2 separate regions of the Homo sapiens genome follow, and region 1 is reported to be linked to region 2. The links are microRNA targets in miRTarBase. Many come from high-throughput screens and were not tested one by one. Region 2 holds a microRNA gene; the other region holds the end of a gene's coding sequence.

Region 1 (5,000 bases), not on the chromosome of region 2:
TCAATTCCTTTGGCTTCTAGAAAATGTTTGGTGTTGTTTTGTTGTTTACCATTTCTTACTATTTAGTGCTTGTCAGACATTACTTACTTGAGGCAGAACATTTGTTTGCTTCACAAGGAAAGGTCACTTATTAAATAAAATGGCATGATTTCTGGAATACACTAATGCTCCTTATCTTAATTGACTTTGGGAATGAGCCTTTACATGAGTTTTTTACCTCCCTGGATCATTTTGAAAAGGTGTAAAATGCTTCCAGAAACGATTTTGTAGAACTAAACAGATTTCATATGTTGGAGAAAAGCCTGACAAGAGGAGGATTGGGTTTTACCAGATTTTTCTATTATAAGAAACTTGCATGATTTAAATATTTTCAGTATGTCCTTTGAGGAAAAAAGCAAACACAGTGCTACCCAAATCATTACTAAATGTCTCTCATTTGGTTTCTCATGTTTCTCTCTCTTTTTCTTTTCTTTGCAGTATTGACTTGAAGCTGAAAGAAAAGCCTTAGTTGGCCATGCTGGAAGAAGAGGATGCTTTTCTGGTTCATGGTTCTGTTGAAACATATCTACCTGAAAGAGACAGGGCTGATGTTACCTTTTTCCACTTTGCACTACCTGGTGCCATTCTAAATTTCTAAGGGGAAAAATAGAAAGTTTGTTTACTCTTAAGATATTTTATGAAATTGTGTGTACTTTCCTATTTTGCCAATTATGTGCCTCAAAGATTTTAGTTGAGCCTTAGCAAGAAAGTAGGACCTTCCATTTCAATACTTCATTAACACGGTGTAGTGATACTTTGTCCCTTAGACTGGTGTTTACCAGTAAGATACCTTTAATCCACTGTTAAGTATGAGTGGATTTGTTTCCATAGATTAGCTGGATTTCCTTTTGGTGATTGCATTAGGTTTAAAGTACACAGGTCTCAACTCTCCCCAGGAAAGTTTCCCCTGTTTGACTCCACCTTTAAAATCCTAAGCCTGACTAGGACAGCCACAAACCACACAAGGTGTAAAACCATCATCAGCTAAGTGCCCGTTTTGTTCTTGTTTACCAGAATCTCCTTTAACTTCTCAAAGGGAAGCCGGGCTTTCTAATCCACGTCAACTTTATTTTAGTTGTCAAATTGGGCATTATATTTTATGTAAATTGGTCTTTTAACATCATTTTCCTGATGAATGTTGGTGACCACCACATTGTGAAATTTAAGAATCCGTGTTGCATGTTTGGTAGCTCTCTGAGTTTCAGGCCATAAACTCAGCTCCAGAGGTTACCTTTTAAGTGCCAAGAACTCAAGTGCAAGGTGGCCTACTCAAAAATCATTTGGTAGCATTCAGTTATTCATGAATTCCTCTCTCGCATGCATTATAAAAAGTGATCTGCTTTAAAACACCGTAATCTGATCATAGGCTTAAAATTAAATATGAGTATTACTTTCATGTACAAAATATTTCCTTTATAGTCTTCATATGCCCTTTAAAATGCCAACAAGATTTCAAGTCTGTAGGCCTCTAGTGAGGTGGGGTGGCAAACCACAGCTAAGTCTCGCTCACCACTGCAAGCTAAGAATGGTTTTTACATTTTGGGTTGGAAAAATTTTTTTTGAATATTTCATGACACATGAAAATTATTCAAATGTTAGTGCCGATAAATAAAGTGGTACTGAAACACAGCCACACAAACTTGTTTTTGTACTGTCTACAGCTACTTTCACACTACAGCCGCAGAGCTGAGCAGTTCAGCAGACCGTATGTCCCACAATGCCTAAAACATTGACTATGTTTACAGAAAAAGTTTGCTGACCCCTGCTCTAGCAAACGCATCCTTTCCTACTCCACCCCAATTTGTATTTAGATAGTTTCTCTAACAGAACGGACAAATGAGGCTGCAAACTAATTTATTTTTGTCAAAAATCAATGTTTTGACATCCACAGACAGTGAAATAAAAGAAATGGCTTGCTGAAAAACATGAGGAGTCCTAGCCACAAAATCACTGCTTAGGTTGCAATTGCCAAAATGAAGCCTTCTTAGAAGCACTTCTTTAGTATATACAGGTGTTGGCTGAAGTCCGTGCCTCACTCTGGGAACCATTCTTAGTCTCCAGTGTCTCCTATTACAAAGAAGCTGGCAGAAATAAAAATGAAGGGGTGAGAGCGGTTCCACCCTAGTCTCATGGTGGAAAATTCATTGGGGAGAGCTGTCCAGGATATTTGGAGTCCTGGGTAGAAGGAGCTTGTAACTACTTTAAAGTCGACATCTTTGCACAGGTGATTGAGTTTCTCTGACCTCATTGCTTCACCTCTGTCTCCTCCCGTCCTTCCGCACGTGCCCACACACACGCAGTTCAGCCCTCTTTCCTCCATAAGCCTCCATCGTTTTCTCTTTTCTCCTCTTGATCCTTTCAAGCGAGTATCTTGTTGAATTGTATGTTCTGTTGGATCTCCTCCTTCATAACATCTGGCTTGTTGGACAGAAAAACCCTACAGCCCACCCCCTCCCACAGCCCACCTCCACTTTTGAAAGCCCAAATTACACCTCTCCCAGAACACAGTGTTGACGTAAATACAGTTACCCAATATTCCTGTTTGTTCACCTATTTGCTACTTTCACTCAGTAGCATCCCATTTTGTAAAATGAATTCCATGGTCACCCTGTCACAGGAAGTAATGAAAAATCCAGTGTTCAGTGTAGTGGTGCAAACCTGAGGGCATAGAGCTGTTCATAGAGGGCTCTTGTTATAGCCAAACAGACACAGCAACAATCTCACCATTTATATATATATTTTTAACTTGTCCAGCTCATCTATGGAAAACTACTCAGGTGGTATGCTGTTTGAAGCCTCATCTTCCTACATGAAAATTATGGGCATTTGTCCCAATGATTTTGTTTCAGCTGTTCTGTAGGCTGCATAACCACTCTGATATTTAGGTATCTGCTATTTTATTATCTTAAAAGACAAATTAATTTAATTGCATGTGCTAGGGAAAAGCTACCATGTACATTCACCCCAAGTAAATAGAATCCTAGATGAATCCTAGAAAAATAATCCCTAAGCAGATAGGTAGACAGAGGTAAACATTCACATGATTTAGCTCTCTAGCTCTTGCACTCTGAACATTCTTGCTTTGGTTCTGACTTCTGGGAACTGCTTTGCATTTCTCCTATAGATCTGTAGTTAAGGGAACCAAGGGGTCATTGGGGCAAAAGCATTGTTTCTCAAAGCTCCTTGATTAAGAGAAAGAACAGAAATTTGCACAGAAGATAGTGTCAAGGAGTGAGAAAGTTTGTTTGAGGGCAGTAGCTCAGTGTGGAAGAAAATCCTGAAGTTTCTGTTGAAGCCATACAATGTTCTATGGGGTTACTCTCTAAGACATTCTCTGAGGTGTGTGAGGAAGTCACTACTCCTAGCCTTTGTTAAGATGTAATTTTAAATATTCAGTTATGGTACTATGTTTGCAACTCTCGTCTTATCACAATGCCTCAGTAGTTTGTTCCCTTAGAAACATTTAGATGTGCACAAATTAATCTTTTATATATCTAAAGGTTTTTCTATCATGCATTGGATTGCTCAGAATAAAGTGTCTGTTAGACTTCGTTTTGGTAAATAAATTCTCCATAATGTAGATTAATAATATAAAAGTCTTTAATGACACAATATATCTATATAGCCTCACTGTATAATTCAGAAATAAAAATTGATTCTGCATGTGATGGTTTTCTTTCTTTGAGTCAGCAAGAATTTTTCTCTGGCTTCACTTTGCAGCAGTTTTATCTCAACATCAATCTAGCTTGGCACTTGGTACTGGAGGACTGTATACATTTTGGTTTTTCTGTACACCCAAACTTTATTCTCTCTTCATTTTTGCCTTTCCTATCTCAGAGTTCAATACACCGAGCTTTCAAACTGTTGTTTACTCTGTGGATAAGCGATTTCTTACTTTGGAAACATCTCCATGTTTCATGGTTACTTGATTTTTGTCTTTTCCTCTCTCTTCCCCTTGCCTTTTTATGGCATATATTTATTTTTAAATTAAAATGTTTAAATATCATTTTATTTTTAGTTGGGGTTTTTTCCCCATTTTCACAACCTTCAGGCAAAACCAGAGTTGAGAATTACCACTGTGCTATTTTTTTAACTTAATAAACACATGTGTACCTCTGAGAAAGTTGTTGGACTAGCCAAAGGAGAAATTGCTCTACAAGAAGTGAGACGTTGCATGTTCTCATGATCTAAAAATGAGTTCTGGTAGATATTGTCCTCTACCCAAGAAAGGGAAGAAACAGAAGAAAAGGCTGACAAGTAATTGCAGGCAAAGGAAGGACATTCAACTACAAGACGTACTGCTACATTCATTCTGCTCTCGTACCTAACTATGGTGGTGGAAACTGGAGGTGGGCTAGGTGTCCAGCACTAGGGAAAGGGCTGGGTAAATCGTGCTGAATACACCTTTTAGTATACCACAGCTGTGAGAAGCAACATACTATATGTTCATAAAGCAACACTTAAATCATAGGGTAGAGCGGAAAAAGAACAAACTCGATGTTTATAGCACAGTGCCACTTACATAACTGTTAAACATACACACACAAAACTACGTATTATCCAAAATCCATGTGTATTTAAGGACTTAACACACTCATTTGGGTAAGGGTAGGGCATGGAGATCAGTGATAAAGTTGGGAGCCTAATTAAAAATCAAAATCATAAGGGGCCTTTTATAAGCTGAAGTTAAAAATAAATAAAATGAAGACAACTTCAGTCGTGGAAGCCAAGACTTTCAGTCATAGATTACAGAAAAGCTGTGTTGGGGCACTGTGGATCCCTGAGGAGCCATTCCCTTCTACAGCTTCTCTTGTGTGTGCAGTGTCCCTGTGCTGGCTGTGTCCATGTGCTGCAGCGTGCCAGAAGCCCGCCCTGGGTTGCATCATCCTGTGCAGTCATGGAACTTTTAATTCAGAGCTGGTGCCTTTTGACACATCAATCCTCACACAGCTGTGGGCTTT
Region 2 (5,377 bases):
AAAATCCTTTTTTTTCAAGTTATACTATCCTTTTATATATGTTTCTGAATTTTAATAGCTAATATTTTGTTGAGAATTTCTGTATCCATTATCATGAAGGATATTAATATTTTCCTTTTTCAATGTCTTTATGTGATTTTGGTAAAAGAATAATAATGCCATGAAGAAATGAGTTCAAATGTGTTTCTTCCTCTTCTATTTTCTAGAATAAATTTTGTAGAATTGGTAGTATTTCTTCCTCAAATGTTTGGTAGAATTTGTCAGTGAAATCATTGAGTTTAGAATTTTCTTTATTGGAAGGTTTTAAAGTACAATTACAATTTTTTTTTTAAGATTTAGGACTATTTGTTGTTTTCCATTATTGATGAGCTTTAGTAGTTTATGACCATATTACTTTTCTACTGCTGCTGTGACAAATCATCACATTCTTAGTGTCTTGATGCAAATGTATGATCTTACACTTCTGAAAGTCAGAAGTCTGACATGTGACTCATTGGGCTAAAATCAAGGTGTTGTCAGGACTGTGTTTATTTTTATATTTTGGGGGGCTCTAAGGGATAATCTGTTTTTGTTGTTGTTGTTGTTGTTTTTGTTGTTTTTGCTTTTTCCAGCTTCTAATGGCCACTTGCATTGTTTGTTTTCAAGGAAGCCATCTTCAAGTTTAGCTATATCAAATCTCTTTCTGGCTGTCTTCTATCATCACATCTTGTATGTTTTCTACTGCTGCTATAACAAATCTTAACAAACTTAGTGGCATCAAACAATACAAATTAATTATCTCACAGTTTTGAAACTTGGATGTCCAAAGTAGTTCAGCAGCATTAATGGCATTTCTTTTGAATGCTTTAAGGAGAAATTAATTTTCTTGCCTTTTTCAGTTTTTAGAGATTACCTGCATTATTTGGAACATAGTCCTGTATTACTCTGACTCCTTTTTCCGTTGTTACCTGTCCTCCTCTAATGCTAACCCTCCAGTCTTTCTCTTATAAAGACTCTTGCGATTACATAGGGGACATTGGACAATTCAGAATATTCTCCCATTTCAAAATCCTTAACTTTATCACATCAGCAAACTTTGTCTGCTATGTAAGGTAAAATATTCATAAATTCCAAGGTTTAGAATATGTACATCTTTGGGTGTGGACACTGTTCTGCCTACTTTATCTTTCATTCTGACTTTATCCAGGAAATGTTCTCTGCTGTTAAGAATTTATATGATTGGGTTGGACTAAACCAGAAAATCCAGAATAAGTTTTCCATTTCAAGATGTTTCACTTTACTCACACATTCAAGGTGACTTTGACAAGTAAAGTTATAGATTCGTGAGTTCTGGGTATTAGGAAATGAACATTTTTTGAAGAGTCATTATTCTGCTTACCACAGCAGATTTAGAGGAATTGGTCCATTTCATTTCAGTATTAAATTTATTATTATAAAGTTGTTAATATAATTTCCTTATTATATTTTCACATCTGTGGAGTCAATATTGATGTTCATTCTTTTATTCCTGATATTGGTAATTGTGTCTTCTCTCTTTTTATTTTAGTTACTCTGGTTAGAGTTTTAACAATTTTATTGATGTTTTCAAAGAAACATCTTTTTGTTCATTATTTTTTCCTAGTTTTGTTATTTTCAATTGATTTATGCTTTAATTTGTATTATTTACTTTCTTCTGTTCACTTTGAGTTTAATTTACTCCTCTTCTCTATTACTCGGGGTGGCTACTGATTTTAGATTTTTGTTTTGTTTTTTTTCTATAATTATTATTTGCATTCAATTTGCTTCTAAGCACCACTTTAGTGGCATCCTACAGATTTGGATATGTTATATTTTAATTTTTATTCAGTTCAAAATATTTTAATTTCCCTTAAGACTTCCTTTTTGATATATGGATTATTTAGAAGTTTGGCATTTAATTCCCAAATGTTCTTGAATTTTCCTATTGTCTTTCTGTAATGGATTTTTACTTTGTCTAGTCTAGAACACACTTTGTATAATTTCTATTTATTTTAATTTATAAGCTTTCCTTTATGGTTCAGAATATCATCCACCTTTGTTTGTGCCCCATGTACGTTTCAGAAGAATGTATATTCATTCTGCCATTGTTAGGTAGATTGTTCCATAAATATCAATGATAGTGTTGCTCAGAATATATATATATGTGTGTATATATATATAGTTTATATATATCATTATATATTATATATAGTTTATATATATAGTTTTTCTGCCTACTTATTTATCAATACCTTTGAGAAAATTGTTGAAGTTTCCAACTTTAATTGTGGATGTGGCTATTTGTTTTTTCAGCTCTGTGAGTGTTGCTTCATGTATTTTATGTATTTAGGAAGCATGTGCCTTCTTGATGAATTGATTCTTTTATTATTATCTACTATCTCTATTTATACCTGATAACATTCCTTGTTTTGAAGTCCTAAGGGTACAGTTTTGTTGTTCCTCCCTACTGAATATTAAAGCTTTTTTTTTTTCATAAGTGCGTTAAGAAAGATGGGTCTGAATATAATTTCCCCTATCCCCTTCCCCTAGGCAGTATTGTGAAGCCAATTTTCTTGGGATTTTCCCCACTTCCTTGTGATCACCTGGTAAAGTTCCTGATGAGAAAGTTTTCAGCGCGCTGCTAACCCCACTGTATTTACACCATTAAAGACTTTACACTCTAATCCTAGCTCATGTTCTTAGTCTTTAGCAGTTTGTTAAAACTTTTTAACTGCGTCTCCTTCAATGTATAACATTCACTGACATCTTCTCCAGATAAGCCAGTGCTAGAGTCTAATTTTTCCTTGCAGGAGCCAATCTCTCCAAGGTTTTGGGTAAATTGGCCTTTGACTTTAGTTCTCTGATGGGTTCACAAAAAGTCCTTAATTTTCAGTGTTTCTGACATTTCTTATTGTAAGCATAGGAGGTGTAATGTTCTTTTCAACTTTCTATATCTCTGAGCAGAAACCACAAGTGACATTCACCATGTATTACTCATCTGTGTTTTTAGAGAGAGAGAGAGATCTAGTTTTCTTCCAACTTTCTATAATCACAAGCAATGCTACAATAAATATATATTCTCCTATGATCCTATGTGAGAATTCTTCTTGGTTACAGACCCAGGAGAGGTCTGTATTAACCCAGGTTAATAGGTCATAGCATATGCATGCACTTAATTTGGTTAGTTGCTGTCACACTACTCTTCAGAATGGCTGCACATGTCTACATGCCCACCAATGATAAATGAAATCTGATTTCTCATCCTTGTCAATATATAACATTATAAAATTTTCTAATCTTTGCAAATATAAATGGAAAGTGGCAAAGCATTGTTTTAATATACCTTTTATTACTAGTGATTTTGAACATATTTTCTCATGCTTATTGGATATTAGATTTTCCCTTCTCTGACTTGCTTATTCTTATATTTTCTTAAATTTACGATTTTATTTTCTTGTTGGTTCATATGAGTTTTTTTTGTTGGTGTTTATTCTAGATATTAGGTTGGTGCAAAGGTATTTGTGGTTTTTGTCATTAAAGTAATGCAAAAGCCACAAATACCTTTGCACCAACCTAATATTAGCCCCTCGGAATTATAGACATGGCAAGTATCTACTATCAGTAAGTTGACTGGAGTAATTTACTACCCTGAAATATTTTATCTTGATATAGTCAATGCATAAAATTTTGTCTTACAGTTTGTGATTTGGGGACTTTAAGATGCTTTTTCTTATCTCTAGGTTGAACAAATTATAAGACTTTTTTTGACAACTAAGCAACATTTCAAATCTTATCACCAATGTTTTACTTAGTATAAATTCAAACATGTAAATTAACCTTAATTTTTGAGACTAAGCGCAAAGAGTACCTTAGCAATGTAGTATAGTATAACATAAAGAACACTGGACTAGAAGTTGGAAGACCACAGTTCTTCTTTCACCTTTACCATTTAGTAGCTGTGATCTTGGTAAACTCATAGCCTCAATGAACTTGAAAATATTTGATTGGGAAAGCGAGGATAATACCATTACCATCAGGTCTGCCTTAGATTACTATAAGCGTTAAATGAGATAATTATTTTGAAAGTACTTTGAAAGTTGTGTATTGCAATTCAGATATAAAATCATGATGTGGTCAGTGTATATTTTGGTTTCATTTCACTAATGAGATTTTCTGAATCAGTGGTTTTCAGAACACAGCTTCAAATATACTAATAAATGTTTTTGCAAAATGAATTATATGTTCAAATCAGGTTGGTATTTTATTATTTAAGTCAGTTATTTACTGTGGGATTTCTTAGAACAATTACTCTTTTTTAATTTTTTTATTTTTAATTTTCTTGGGTACATAGCAGGTGTATATATTTATAGGGTACATGAGATGTTTCGATACAGGCATGCAATGTGAAATAAGCACATCATGAAGAAGATGGAGAACCATTATTCTTCTAATATGCTTGGAAATTTTTTTAAAGACTCATGCAATAGTATGACTTTTTTCCCCCACAGCTCTTTGCTTATTGGGTCTTTTTTCATGGGATACCTACGAATATGTCCCTGAAAATATTTTAAAAATGCAAGTTTGAGAAAATTTTATTCACTTAAAAGAACATGAGGCTTTTCATATTCCAGTTCTGTTACTTATGTAAGACTCTGGGAATGGTACTTAACCTCTTTGAGTTGTACTTTATTCAGCCTTAAAAACAGGGATAAATAAGGCTATTGCAAGATAATGTATATAAAAAGAAGTGCCTGGCAAATAGTAGGAACTCAGTAAGTGGTGGTAGTGGTTAGTTTATTTTTTGTTATTTTGATATTATTATTAACAGTATCAATGTAGACACTGACCTCTGATCAATAGCTTGTATTCATTAAATCTCACTTTCCATTTTTATACCCAACAGAATGTCATAGAGGTTGTTAATGTTTCTTTGCACCAAGATATTTAGAGTACCCCTGCTAATATTGTCATTGAAATCGCAGGTGGGCTTGCTGCCACATTCCTTGCATCATTTCAGCCACCAATGAAATAAAAATGGATAGTTTTGAGCTATTTCTGTGGCTCTAATATAAATAAGTTCATAAGGTGGGGAATTCCTTCATCCATAATCCTGTTTTAGAGTGGAGTTTTTATTGTGATATGTGATAACAATAAATATTGGTTTACTTTCCATCCTTCTCATTTATCATCAGCACTTATATCTTCCTTTAAAATTATTTTTCTTTATTCATCACCTCATATGTATGATATACTTTAGTTACCTCACTTAGATTTTGAATTCACCCCACATACAAAGAAATTCACTGAATTTTGTTCAATGAGAAGTTAAATAGCTACTCTTTCTAAGCATTATTTTGGAACTTTTCTAAATTTATGAAGC

Evidence for each region. Region 2 holds the annotated microRNA hsa-miR-548m (CAAAGGUAUUUGUGGUUUUUG, at 3,508-3,528, shown strand). A microRNA usually pairs through its seed, bases 2 to 8, with sites in the 3' UTR of a target mRNA and lowers its output. Matches are read on the target gene's strand: a 7mer-m8 pairs with bases 2 to 8, a 7mer-A1 pairs with bases 2 to 7 and ends in A, and an 8mer does both.
Region 1: the mRNA of PRUNE2 is a reported target of hsa-miR-548m. Seed matches in the 3' UTR shown: 7mer-m8 at 592-598, 8mer at 827-834, 7mer-A1 at 959-965 and 7mer-m8 at 1,268-1,274.

What each region holds. Positions count from the first base shown.
Region 1 is chr9:76,610,078-76,615,077 of GRCh38, reverse strand. It overlaps PRUNE2 (prune homolog 2 with BCH domain), which reads left to right. Exons shown (of 19, transcript NM_015225.3): 19 at 478-3,702. The coding sequence ends at 508. All of the region lies in intron 5 of LOC105376095 (a long non-coding RNA gene), which reads right to left. Among named protein-coding and RNA genes, the nearest start is that of PCA3, 150 kb to the left of the region's middle.
Region 2 is chrX:95,061,343-95,066,719 of GRCh38, reverse strand. MIR548M (microRNA 548m) reads left to right here and starts at 3,494; the gene lies at 3,494-3,579.